Linked DNA regions of Homo sapiens. The protein of the gene in region 2 interacts with the protein of the main gene of each other region in a pairwise test. Each region holds a gene or a part of one and is shown on either strand. Other genes may lie near its edges.

Region 1 (3,653 bases), on a different chromosome or scaffold from region 2:
TTAGCCGGGCGTGGTGGCGGGTGCCTGTAGTCTCAGCTATTTAGGAGGCTGAGGCAGAAGAATGGCGTGAACCTGGGAGGCAGAGCTTGCAGTGAGCCAAGATCATGCCACTGCACTCCAGCCTAGGCTAAAGTGTGAGACTCCATCTCAAAAAAACAAAACAAAACAAAGCTAAATAAGGCCGGGCATGGTGGCTCATGCCTGTAATCCCAGCACTTTGGGAGGCCAAGGCAGGCAGATCACTTGAGATCAGTTCAAGACCAGACTGGCCAACATGGTGAAACACAGATATATTCATATATACATATGTATACACAAATACATATATATGCAGACATCTATTCATATTTGCTTATATCTGCCTTAAGACACACTGGAAGGATACCAAATAAACTAATAAAAATAGTTATCTGTGGGGGAATTAGGTGCACAGTAATAAAGACAGAAGTGAGAATTCTCACTGTATACCTTTTGATTTCTGAACTATGTTCATTTTTCACCTATTCAAAAAATAAATAATTATGATGTGGGGAAATCAGCATCCCTAGCAGGAGCCTTCTAACCTTAGAAATGTGTCTGGGAACCTGGCATCATGAGGGTTGCCTGCTCTGCTCCTCAGAAGATAAAGCCTGGAGGTAGATGGGTGGCTTCTGACTAGACTGTCACCAACTACGACTCACCTTTCCATAAGTGACTTGCCTAAAATGATAGTGCCAGAAAACAGACAAGGCCCTGCCAGGGTGAGGAGGGAACCTGACACACCCTGTGACCTCTTGACACTACTACTTGATGACTTGCTCCACACCCATCTAATATGCCTCTAATGGCAGCAGACTGCAAAGGCCTAGAAAGAAGACAGGTCCAGAGTTGGTTGCCATTGGAATGCAGTCTGAATTTTATTCAGCTCAAGGCATCAGTACTCCTTTTGGAGTAGTACTGGGAGAAAAAATAAAGGCTCAAGGGGAGCCCCTGGGAGTTAGGTGAGCAGTGAATGGGGGAAGGGCCATGAAACCTCATTGCCTAGTGTCCTGGTTTGGAAAATGTGATAATCTCTAGATAGCCAGGAAAGAGAAAGGATTAATTGGTATTTACAGAATGAGGGCAATAAGGATCCTGGAGGATGCTGTCCCATGAATACAACTCTTAAGGATTCACCTCACTCATTGTACTTGCCTGGTAATCGTGAGCTTCTCCTCATACTTGCCCCAGGATGATACAACTGACTCTGGTCTGGCAAGGCTGGCAGAGAAATGACCTATTGAAGGTGGCAGCTTTCACATCAAAATGCAGAGTGCATGGCTGTATCAAAAGCTGGTCTTTTCAGTAGATCCCAGGAAAAAAATAGGTCAGTACATACAGTTCCCCACTTCCTATTTGTTTTTGTTTTTTTTTTTTTGAGATGGAGTCTCACTCTGTCACCCAGGCTGGAGTGCAGTGGCACAATCTCGGCTCACTGCAACCTCCTACTCCCGGGTTCAAGCAATTCTCCTGTCTAGCCTCCTGAGTAGCTGGGACTACAGGTGTGTGCCACCACGCCCAGCTAATTTTTGTATTTTTAGTAGAGACGGGGTTTCACCATGTTGGCCAGGATGGCTCTTGAACTCGTGATCCACCCACCTTGGCCTCCCAAAGTGCTGGGATTACAGGTGTGAGCCACTGTGCCCAGCCTTCCTATTTGTTAGACAGTAGGCAGGTAGAAGAGGCCTGCAGGGAGCCTGGCTGATTACCTGAAGCACTACATCATAAAAATGCAGAGAGAACTTATTAGGAGAGTCCAGAAGTTCAATCACGGACAGGAAGATGGAACCTAGTAAGAGTTCCTGTAGAGGAAAGGAAGCTACCCAGCTACTATCACAAGACAGAAACAAGCAGCTGACTGTTTTACAGGAGAAATCTTTCAGAGTGACCTCAGAAAAAAATCTGAACCACTGGATCTCTGTGGCATCCACCTCTAGATTGATTCTGGAAGGCCTTATTCTTGTAGTCACCATTACTCCTTTGACCTAAATCTCTATTGGGTGAGGGTGGAGAGAAGAACACAGTGACTTCACCATGGGTCCCGCTGCCCATGAATATTTTCTACTAGTTCCACTGCTACCTGTTGCCCCACCAAACCTGCCATCAGACCAACTCACCTGTACTGGCTCCTCCAAGACTCCACTGCAAATAGGGCAGATAAGATCTTCGTCAACATCCCCCTGGAAACGGGTTACATCATACCCCATGTCTCATCACTGAAACCCAGGTCCTGAAAGGACAACAGGAAAAAGAGGCCAGTTCAGAAGAAGCCTACAAATATGTGACAAACATACACTCATTGCCAAGATCCATTCATTTATCCAACAAATATTTACTGGGAGTCTACTATGCAGCAGTCATTTGGCTCGGTGGAAGCTGACTCAAGAAATTTAATTCTGGCCAGGTGCAGTGGATCACGCCTGTAATCCCAACACTTTGGGAGGCCGAGGCAGGCGGATCACCTGAGGTCAGGAGTTCAAGACCAGCCTGGCCAACATGGTGAAACCCTGTCTCTACTAAAAATACAAAAATTAGCTGGGTGTGGTATGCGCATCTGTAATCCCAGCTACTCGGGAGGCTGAGGCAGGAGAAGCATTTGAACCCAGGAGGCAGAGGTTGCAGTGAGCCGAGATCGCGCCACTGCACTCCAGCCTGGGGAACACAGCGAGCCTCAGTCTCTAAAAAAAAAAAAAAAATTAATTCTAAGGCCTGGCACAGTGGCTCACGCCTGTAATCCCAGCACTTTGGGAGGCCGGGACAGGCAGATGAGCTGAGGTCAGGAGTTCAAGACCAGCCTGGCCAACATGATGAAAACCCAGCTCTACTAAAAATACAAAAATTAGCTGGGCGTGGTGATGCACATCTGTAATCCCAGCTACTTGGAAGGCTGAGGCACAAGAATCACTTGAACCCAGGAGGCAGAGGCTGCAGTGAGCCGAGATTGCACCACAGCTCTCTAGCCTAGGCAACAGAGTAAGACTCTGCCTTAAAAAAAAAAGAAAAAAAGAAATGTAATTCTAATGGGGGAAGACATTATATAAGCACACATTTAAAATATAAAGTGATAAATACTCAGAGTAGAGACAGGACCTTATGAGGACAAGAGACATGAATACCTAACCCAGGCTGAAAGCAGAGGGTGGTTTTGACAAGTTTTCCAGGACTGGGCGTCACCAGAAACGTGTCCTGTAGGGCAAGAGTCAGCTAAATGTTGGGGGAGCAGGGCATTAGGGTGTTATGCACATAAAATAGCACATCCAAATGCCCAGAAGAGGGCATATGATAGGTTCAGAGAATTTCAAGTGATTCAAGAAAAGGCTGACCTGAGAGGTGGGAGGGAGGGCCTGTCAAGAGACAAGGCTGGAGAGGCAAGCAAGGGCCATGCTGTGAAAAGTCTGTGAGGATTTTGGACTTTATTCTGAAGGGTATGAGAGAGCCACTGAAGGACTTAAAAAACAATGTGATAATAGTTCCATTTTAGAATCAGTATGTTAACAGGGGAGAAACTGGAGACCGGAAGAACATCTAAGTCAGGAGAGTGACGGTAAGAGTCTGAACTTAGGTGGTGGTGGTGATGGGGATAAAGAAGAGAAGAGAGGGCCGGGCATGGTGGCTCATGCCTGTAATCCCAGCAC
Region 2 (3,653 bases):
TCTCTTTCATCTCCTCCCCTTCCTGGCTGCATTCCTGCTATCCCTGGAACGCCCTAAGTATTCTCCTGCCCCAGGGACTTTACACTTGCTGTTCCCTTGGCTTGAAATGTTCCTCTCAGACATTGGCTCCTTCCTCCCCGTCAAGTCCTTCAGGTCTTGGCTCCAATGTCACCTTTTCAGCAATGCCATCCTAACCAAACCATTTAAACCTGCATCCTGGCTGGGCGCAGTGGCTCATGCCTGTAATCCCAGCACTTTGGGAGGCCGAAGCAGGCAGATCACTTGAGCTCAAGAGTTTGAGACCAGCCTGGGCAACATGGTGAGACCCCATCGCTACCAAAAATACAAATATTAGCTGGGCTTGGTAGTGCACAAGCCTGTAGTCCCAGCTACTCAGGAGGCTGAGGTGGGAGGGTAGCTTGAACATAGGAAGTCAAGGCTGCTGTGAGCCATGTTCGTGCCACTGCACTCCCGCCTGGGTGACAGAATGAGCTCCTGTTTCAAAAAAAATTTTTTAAAGAGGGACAGGCATGGTGGCTCACGCCTGTAATCCCAGCACTTTGGGAGGCCAAGGCGGGTGGATCACTTGAGATCAGGAGGTCAAGACCAGTCTGACCAACATGGTGAAACCCCATCTCTACTAAAAATACAAAAATTAGCCAGGCGTGGTGGCGAGCACCTGTAATCCCAGCTCCTAGGGAGGCTGAGGCAGAGAATAGCTTGAACCCTGGAGGAGGTTGCAGTGAGCCAAGATTGCCCCCATTGCACTCCAGCCTGGGTGACTGAGACAGACTCCATTTCAGAAAAAAAAAAAAAAAAAGGCAAAAAAGGCCAGGCGCAGTGGCTCATGCCTGTAATCCCAGCACTTTGGAAGGCCGAGGAGGGTGGATTACAAGGTCAGGAGTTCGAGACCAGCCTGGCCAACATGGTGAAACCTCGTCTCTACCAAAAATACAAAATTAGCCTGGTGTTGTGGTGCACGCCTGTAATCCCAGCTATTTGGGAGGCTGAGGCAGGAGAATTGCTTGAACCTGGGAGGTGGAGGTTGCAGTGAGCTGAGATCATGCCACTGCACTCCAGCCTGGGTGACAGAGTAAGACTCTGTCTCAAAAAAAGTAATTAATTAATTAATTAATTAATTAATTCAATTCAATCAAATAAAAAATAAAGACAAGGTCTTGCTACATTGCCCAGGCTGGTCTTGAACACCTGGGCTCAAGCAATCCTCCCACCTTGGCTTCCCAAAGTGCTGGGATTACAGGCATGAGCCACTGCACCTGGCCTATTCTCTCTACTTTTCTGTGTTTGAACATTCTATAGGAAGTTTGAAAAACGCACCAGCAAAAAAAATTTGACCAAAAAAAAAAATTCTTTTTTAATCGTAGGCAAAAAAAATTAATAATAACAATGCAGAACAAAAAGGCAAAATATTAATACTGATTAAATCTGGGTAGTAGGTATACGAATCTCCAATCTACTTTTCTTTCATTGTACTAATCTGTATGTTTATGATTTTTCACAATGAAAAGTACAAGTAAAGGAAGGGAAGAAGCAAGCAAGCTCAAAGCAGGTTGAGTGAATGATATAGGATGGATAGAGGGTCCAAGGGGTTCTTGCAACTAGAAGCTGGGCAGGGAGTGGCGAAGTAGGGCACGAGGAAGCAGCGGGGTGCAGGAGGCATGGAGCGGGCGTCACCTCCACAAAGTTGGTGTGTTTGGCGTCTCGGACGGTGACCACGGCATGCACCTCCTCGATCAGCTTCTGTTTCTCATCATCATCAAACTGCATGTACCACTTGGCCAGGCGCGTCTTGCCTGCCCGGTTCTGGATGAGGATAAAGCGGATCTGGGGGCAGCAGGAGGAGAAGGAGGAAGTGAGAGAGGCAGAGAGGGCGGGTTGGGTGCTGCCCAACGGCCCCACCCATCCACCCAGAGGGGAGATAGGGCTCAGGGCCTCCCTGCTGCCTGACTTCCAGGGGTCTCGGCTGCTCCCCAGACCCAAGCCAGGCCGGCCTGGCCACACGCTTCATCCCGGGTCCCTCCAGCACCCCTGTGGAGTGACTTCCCTTCCACAAGTCTCCAACTCTGGAGTCAGCTCCAGGGCCCCGAGTCCCAGGCTCCTCCACCACCTCTTATCTCTCTCTGTTTTTTTTTTTTTTTTTTTTTGTAGAGACAGAGTCTTGCTACGTTGCTGGTCTCAAACTCCTGGACTCAAGCAATTCTCCCACCTCGGCCTCCCAAACTGCTGGGATCACAGGTGTGAGCCACTGTGCCCTGCTTTGTCTGCCCCTCTAGGCCTGTTTCCTCACCAGCAAAACAAGTCTCCCAAGAAGATTCATCTCACCAGGGTGGTTTTTTCATTATATTTTTTGTTATTTTTAAATTTTCAGACAGTGTCTCATTCTGTCACCCAGGCTGGAGTGCGATGGCGCAATCTCGGCTCACTGCAACCTCCGCCTCCCAGGTTCAAGCGATTCTCCTGCCTCAGTGTCCTGAGTAGCTGGGACTACAGGCACCCGCCACCACGCCTGGAAAATGTTTGTATTTTTGGTAGAGACGGGGTTTCACCATGTTGGCCAGGCTGGTCTCAAACTTCTGACCTCAGGTGATCCGCCCGCCTCTGCCTCCCAAAGTGTGGGGTTATAGGCATGGGCCACCACGCCCAGTCAGCCAGGGTTTTTTTAAAGGTTAAAAAAAAAGTTTATAAACTTAGTTCGGTGGCTGGTAGGTGGTAGATACTCAATAAACATTTGAGGTTCAGACTCCTTTGGGCTAAGTCTCAGCTCTGCCACTTCTTTTTTTCTCTTTGCTTCCTAACTTTTTATAAAATTGAAATGTAATTCACACACCATAAAATCCATCCACTTAAAATGTAGACAGTTAAATGGTTTTTGGTATATTCACTTAGTATATATTCACAGTTGTGTAAAAATCACCACTTTTTTTTTTTTTTTTGAGACAGGTTCTAGCTCTGTTGCCCAGGCTAGAGTGCAGTGGCGCGATCCCGCCTCACTGCAACCTCCACCTCCTGGGTGCAGGCCTCCCAGGTAGCTGGGACCGCAGGTGCACACCACCACGCCCAGCTAACTTTTTGTATTTTTAGTAGAGACAGTGTTTCACCATGTTGTCCAGGCTGGTCTCGAACTCCTGGCCTCAAGCGATCCACCCACCTCATCCCCCCAAAGTGCTGCATCAGGCGTGAGCCACTGCACCCCACCTAATATCACCACTATCTAATTTATTATCTAATACCAGAACATTTTCATCATCTCCCCCCAAAAAACTCCCCACCCATTAGCAGTCACTCTCCGTTCCCCCAGGGCCTGGCAGCCACGAGTCTCCTTTCTGTCTCTGTGGATGTGTCTGTTCTGGACATTGTATATGAGTGGAATCATGCACTCTGTGGCTTTCGTGTCTGGCTTCCTTCACTCAGCGTGACGTTTTCCAGGCTCATCTGTGGGGTGGCAAGCGGCAGAGCTGCAATTCCTTTCCGTGGCTGAGTGATCCTCTGTTGGATGGATAAGGCCGTACTTCGGGCATTTGGGTTGTTTCTGCTTTAGGGCTATTATGAATAATACTGCTATGAACATTCGTGTATGAGTTTTCGTGTGGATGGATCATTTCTCTTGGGTATATACCTAAGAGTGAGATTGC
Region 3 (3,653 bases), on a different chromosome or scaffold from region 2:
TATGCATTGACGAGGAGTTTGTGACTGTTTTTCATTATATTCTTCTGATAAGTCAATTAATGGCATGTCATTTTACTTCTATAAGCTGATTTTCCACATTTGTATAAAGTGGAGGTTATGGGTATGGGTGTGAGAGACGGGAGTTTAGGTTGGAACAACTTCTAACTTCTCTTCCAGTTGTAAATACTGTATAACATAATGGAAGCAAAATGCTTCCATGGCTCCATAACCATGTCTATATTCATTTGTTCACCATTGACTTGTCTCTTACTGTGGGGATTTCCTGTTATATACATGCTGCACATAGATTTCCAAAAGATTCAGTTATAATCTAAAACATTTATAGTAATTTGCTTGGCTATTACACATTTAAAATTTATCGGAAGTGTCTTGATCAAACAAGAATTTAGGTTGGCTTTCAAAGAATGTGAACAAGGCTGAATATAAATAGGATTGGGGTCATTTATCAGTATCCATTCTTTTATTTCATTAGCTGAATTAATGTCTAAGCATTCAGTCCAAGAAATATATGTAGCTCTTCTATTTTATTAATGGTTTAGCCTTAATCCTATCTTCCTTTTAGTTTGCAATAAGTACAAAATAGTTACAAATTCTAGAAGATTGTTATTGTCTACCTCCTATGAAGTACTTAAGCAATACAATAAATAGAGCTGTCATTCTTTGTCTTCTACTTGCTCTTTTCTGGATATTTGGTTATATGACTGTTTTTTCCTTTACTACTGTCTAATCTAGTTCACAATGATTTTTGTGTTCTTAAAGAGAAAATGTCAATGACTTAAATTATATCACCATAACTTTTATAATCAGATGATCAGAGAATATAGGATTAAAGCTAATAAATGCAGGGTCCTTTGAAATCCTCACATAAAAGGAAACAGCAAAAGTACCAGCTTTATCTGGTATCTGACTGAGAAAATCAACCAATGTATATTGGTTTTGCACTTTACATGGTAATGTTGTCATTTATTTTTAGATATCCTTGGAACAGAAGATCTTATTGTGGAAGTGACTTCCAATGATGCTGTGAGATTTTATCCCTGGACCATTGATAATAAATACTATTCAGCAGACATCAATCTATGTGTGGTGCCAAACAAATTTCTTGTTACTGCAGAGATTGCAGAATCTGTCCAAGCATTTGTGGTTTACTTTGACAGCACACAAGTAAGACTTTGTTTTCTATGAAGGCTTGAATAAGAAATTATTGCATGCCTTCTTTTTTTCCCATTACATTTTGTCTGACTATCTCTTTTCTGTTTTTGTTTGTTTATATTTTTTGTTCCCTCTAGAAATCGGGCCTTGATAGTGTCTCCTCATGGCTTCCACTGGCAAAAGCATGGTTACCTGAGGTGATGATCTTGGTCTGCGATAGAGTGTCTGAAGATGGTAAGGCCTGTGGATGGGACAGTAGTTGGTACATGCATTTGCCATTCCTTGATAAACAGAGTACATCTGTTTCTTTAACTTAGGACATACATCCCATGTGACTTTATGGCTTTATGAAAATATTTTCAGCTATTTTTCTTTGGAATCTTGTAATACTTACTTTTTTTTTAAGAATGGATACTTCGGGGCTGAGAAGTCATTTTCTTTTTATTATTTTAGATGCCTTTAGAATAACATTGACATTAAGGGAAACACATTGAGATTTGTGAAGAATATTGCAGGAATAGTCATGTTTTATTTTCTTTTTACTTATGAAGATTCTTTTGCATATTATTTTAGGTATAAACCGACAAAAAGCTCAAGAATGGTGCATCAAACATGGCTTTGAATTGGTAGAACTTAGTCCAGAGGAGTTGCCTGAGGAGGATGGTAAGTGTTTATGTGTTAGGAGAAAATATGGCACTTAGATATGAGAGATTATTTTAATTCAGGGAAGAAGAATCACAGCAAAATTCAAGAAACTTTTTTCCCCAGCTGTTTCAAGGATTTAAGCAAAATCCATTGATGTAATCTTATAATCTTACACTTAGTGTAATAATTCATTTTTTTGGTTTTACCACCTGTTTTAGAACTTTTGAAAATGTGTGTTTTTCTTATGGATAAAGGTATAGGGCTGCTTTCTAAAATCTTTGTCATTTCCATAATCCTTTTTCCTTTCCCTACTGCTGAAGAAGGAGAGTTAGACCTTCGTAGTAGTTAAAGTTGATGTTTCTTATTTTGAATTCATAGTAACCTAAGGCTGAATTCCCAAGAATCGCAGGGGACATTTCAAATCCATTTGAATGTCTTTTGGACATTTGAAGCCAAAAGATAGACCCCAAATTTAATCCCCCACCTCCACCCCAGGTAGCTCTGCAATCGCTGTCCTCCGCTATTGCTGGACCTTCTATTTCTTCCCCTCTTCTACTCCCCTTCCCCATTTCTTTTCTCATCTTTTCTCCTTTGAAGTACACCTGTTTTGGTATCTACCAGGATAAGAGGGTTTTTGGTTCACCAAAACCTTATAATCTGGTACAAGAGATGAAACTTACAGATAATTGAATTACCAAGTGGAATGTCATAAGTATTATAGAAGAAATAGTAGTGCTGTGGTATTTTAGAGACCGGAGAGCTTATTTTTGTTTAAAAGTGCAGAGAACGTGTTGGCATTGTGACCTCTCACATGTCAGCTGCTCCATGGGGAAGAAGTTAGAAAAGGTCCTGGGCTTGTAGTGAGAGGACTGCTGGAGAGGTGGCATTGTGAATATGCCAGTTGTTCCAAAAGACATTCTGGGCAGGGGCAACCAACGTGAATTAAAGTACATAGATAAGACATAAGCAGTCATTTCAAGAAACTTGTATTTTTCTTCAAGGAATTAAGAAATATTTTTCTATATTCTGGTTTTATTTATAATTTTTCCAAAATGCTGTTACCTTTGAGAATAAAACCTGCTGGAGAAGAAGAGAACAAAACTGAAATAAAAACTCTGGTTTTTCTCCTTGCTCATTTTAAAGAGTGTTGAAAATTAGCATGTACATCTTTTTCTGTGTTTTTCTAGGTCCCTGAAACTTGTGCCCTGTTTTGTGTATGTGAGCCTGTGTGATTTCTGGCACTAGAATTTTCTCTTTCTCTTGTCCTTGGGAGTCAGTATTTGACTGTTATCATTTTGGAATCTCTGCTCCTTTATACTACTTTATTTCTCGTAGCCCTTTGTCTGAATAATGTTCTTGTATTCATTCAGCTTAATCTTAAAATGGGTTTTTTGATATGTCATCTTTAGGTAAGGTAATGAAAACCTTCCTAGACTTTTAAAATACAAATTATTCCTAAGCCATATTTCCTCATCTTTTACTTGCATGTATTATTCAAACATGAATATAGGACTTTATGCTAGTTTGTATTAATTTTCCTCTTACTGGTACTAGCTCTTCATTTCAGACCACATTTTTGGTTCCTGGTTATATCATCTAAAGTATTAGTTATTCTTTTGAGAATTAAGTCATTCACAATTAAGATAAACATGACTTTTAGGTCTTCATCCAGACATTGGTGGTGATAAACTTATCTTGGTAGAGTATTTTCTTTCTTTATTTTTATTTATTTATTTATTTATTTGAGACAGAGTCTCTCTCTGTTGCCCAGGCTGGAGTGCAGTGGCACGATCTCTGCTCACTGCAAGCTCCACCTCCTAGATTCACGCCATTCT

Evidence for each region.
Region 1: the proteins of AP2S1 (region 2) and RNF41 interact in a protein complementation assay, tested with the Homo sapiens proteins (one study listed by BioGRID).
Region 3: the proteins of AP2S1 (region 2) and AAGAB interact in binary tests that used the Homo sapiens proteins (3 or more experiments, as listed by UniProt).

The regions. Positions count from the first base shown.
Region 1 is NC_000012.12:56,211,823-56,215,475, forward strand, and holds part of RNF41 (E3 ubiquitin-protein ligase NRDP1), read right to left. Parts: intron 2,249-3,653; 5' UTR 2,226-2,248; coding exon 2,136-2,225; intron 1,317-2,135; exon of another isoform or gene 1,174-1,316; intron 1-1,173. UniProt on the Homo sapiens protein: Acts as E3 ubiquitin-protein ligase and regulates the degradation of target proteins. Polyubiquitinates MYD88. Negatively regulates MYD88-dependent production of pro-inflammatory cytokines.
Region 2 is NC_000019.10:46,844,298-46,847,950, forward strand, and holds part of AP2S1 (AP-2 complex subunit sigma), read right to left. Parts: intron 1,846-3,653; coding exon 1,696-1,845; intron 1-1,695. UniProt on the Homo sapiens protein: Component of the adaptor protein complex 2 (AP-2). Adaptor protein complexes function in protein transport via transport vesicles in different membrane traffic pathways.
Region 3 is NC_000015.10:67,234,162-67,237,814, reverse strand, and holds part of AAGAB (alpha- and gamma-adaptin-binding protein p34), read left to right. Parts: intron 1-994; coding exon 995-1,185; intron 1,186-1,310; coding exon 1,311-1,407; intron 1,408-1,746; coding exon 1,747-1,836; intron 1,837-3,653. UniProt on the Homo sapiens protein: May be involved in endocytic recycling of growth factor receptors such as EGFR.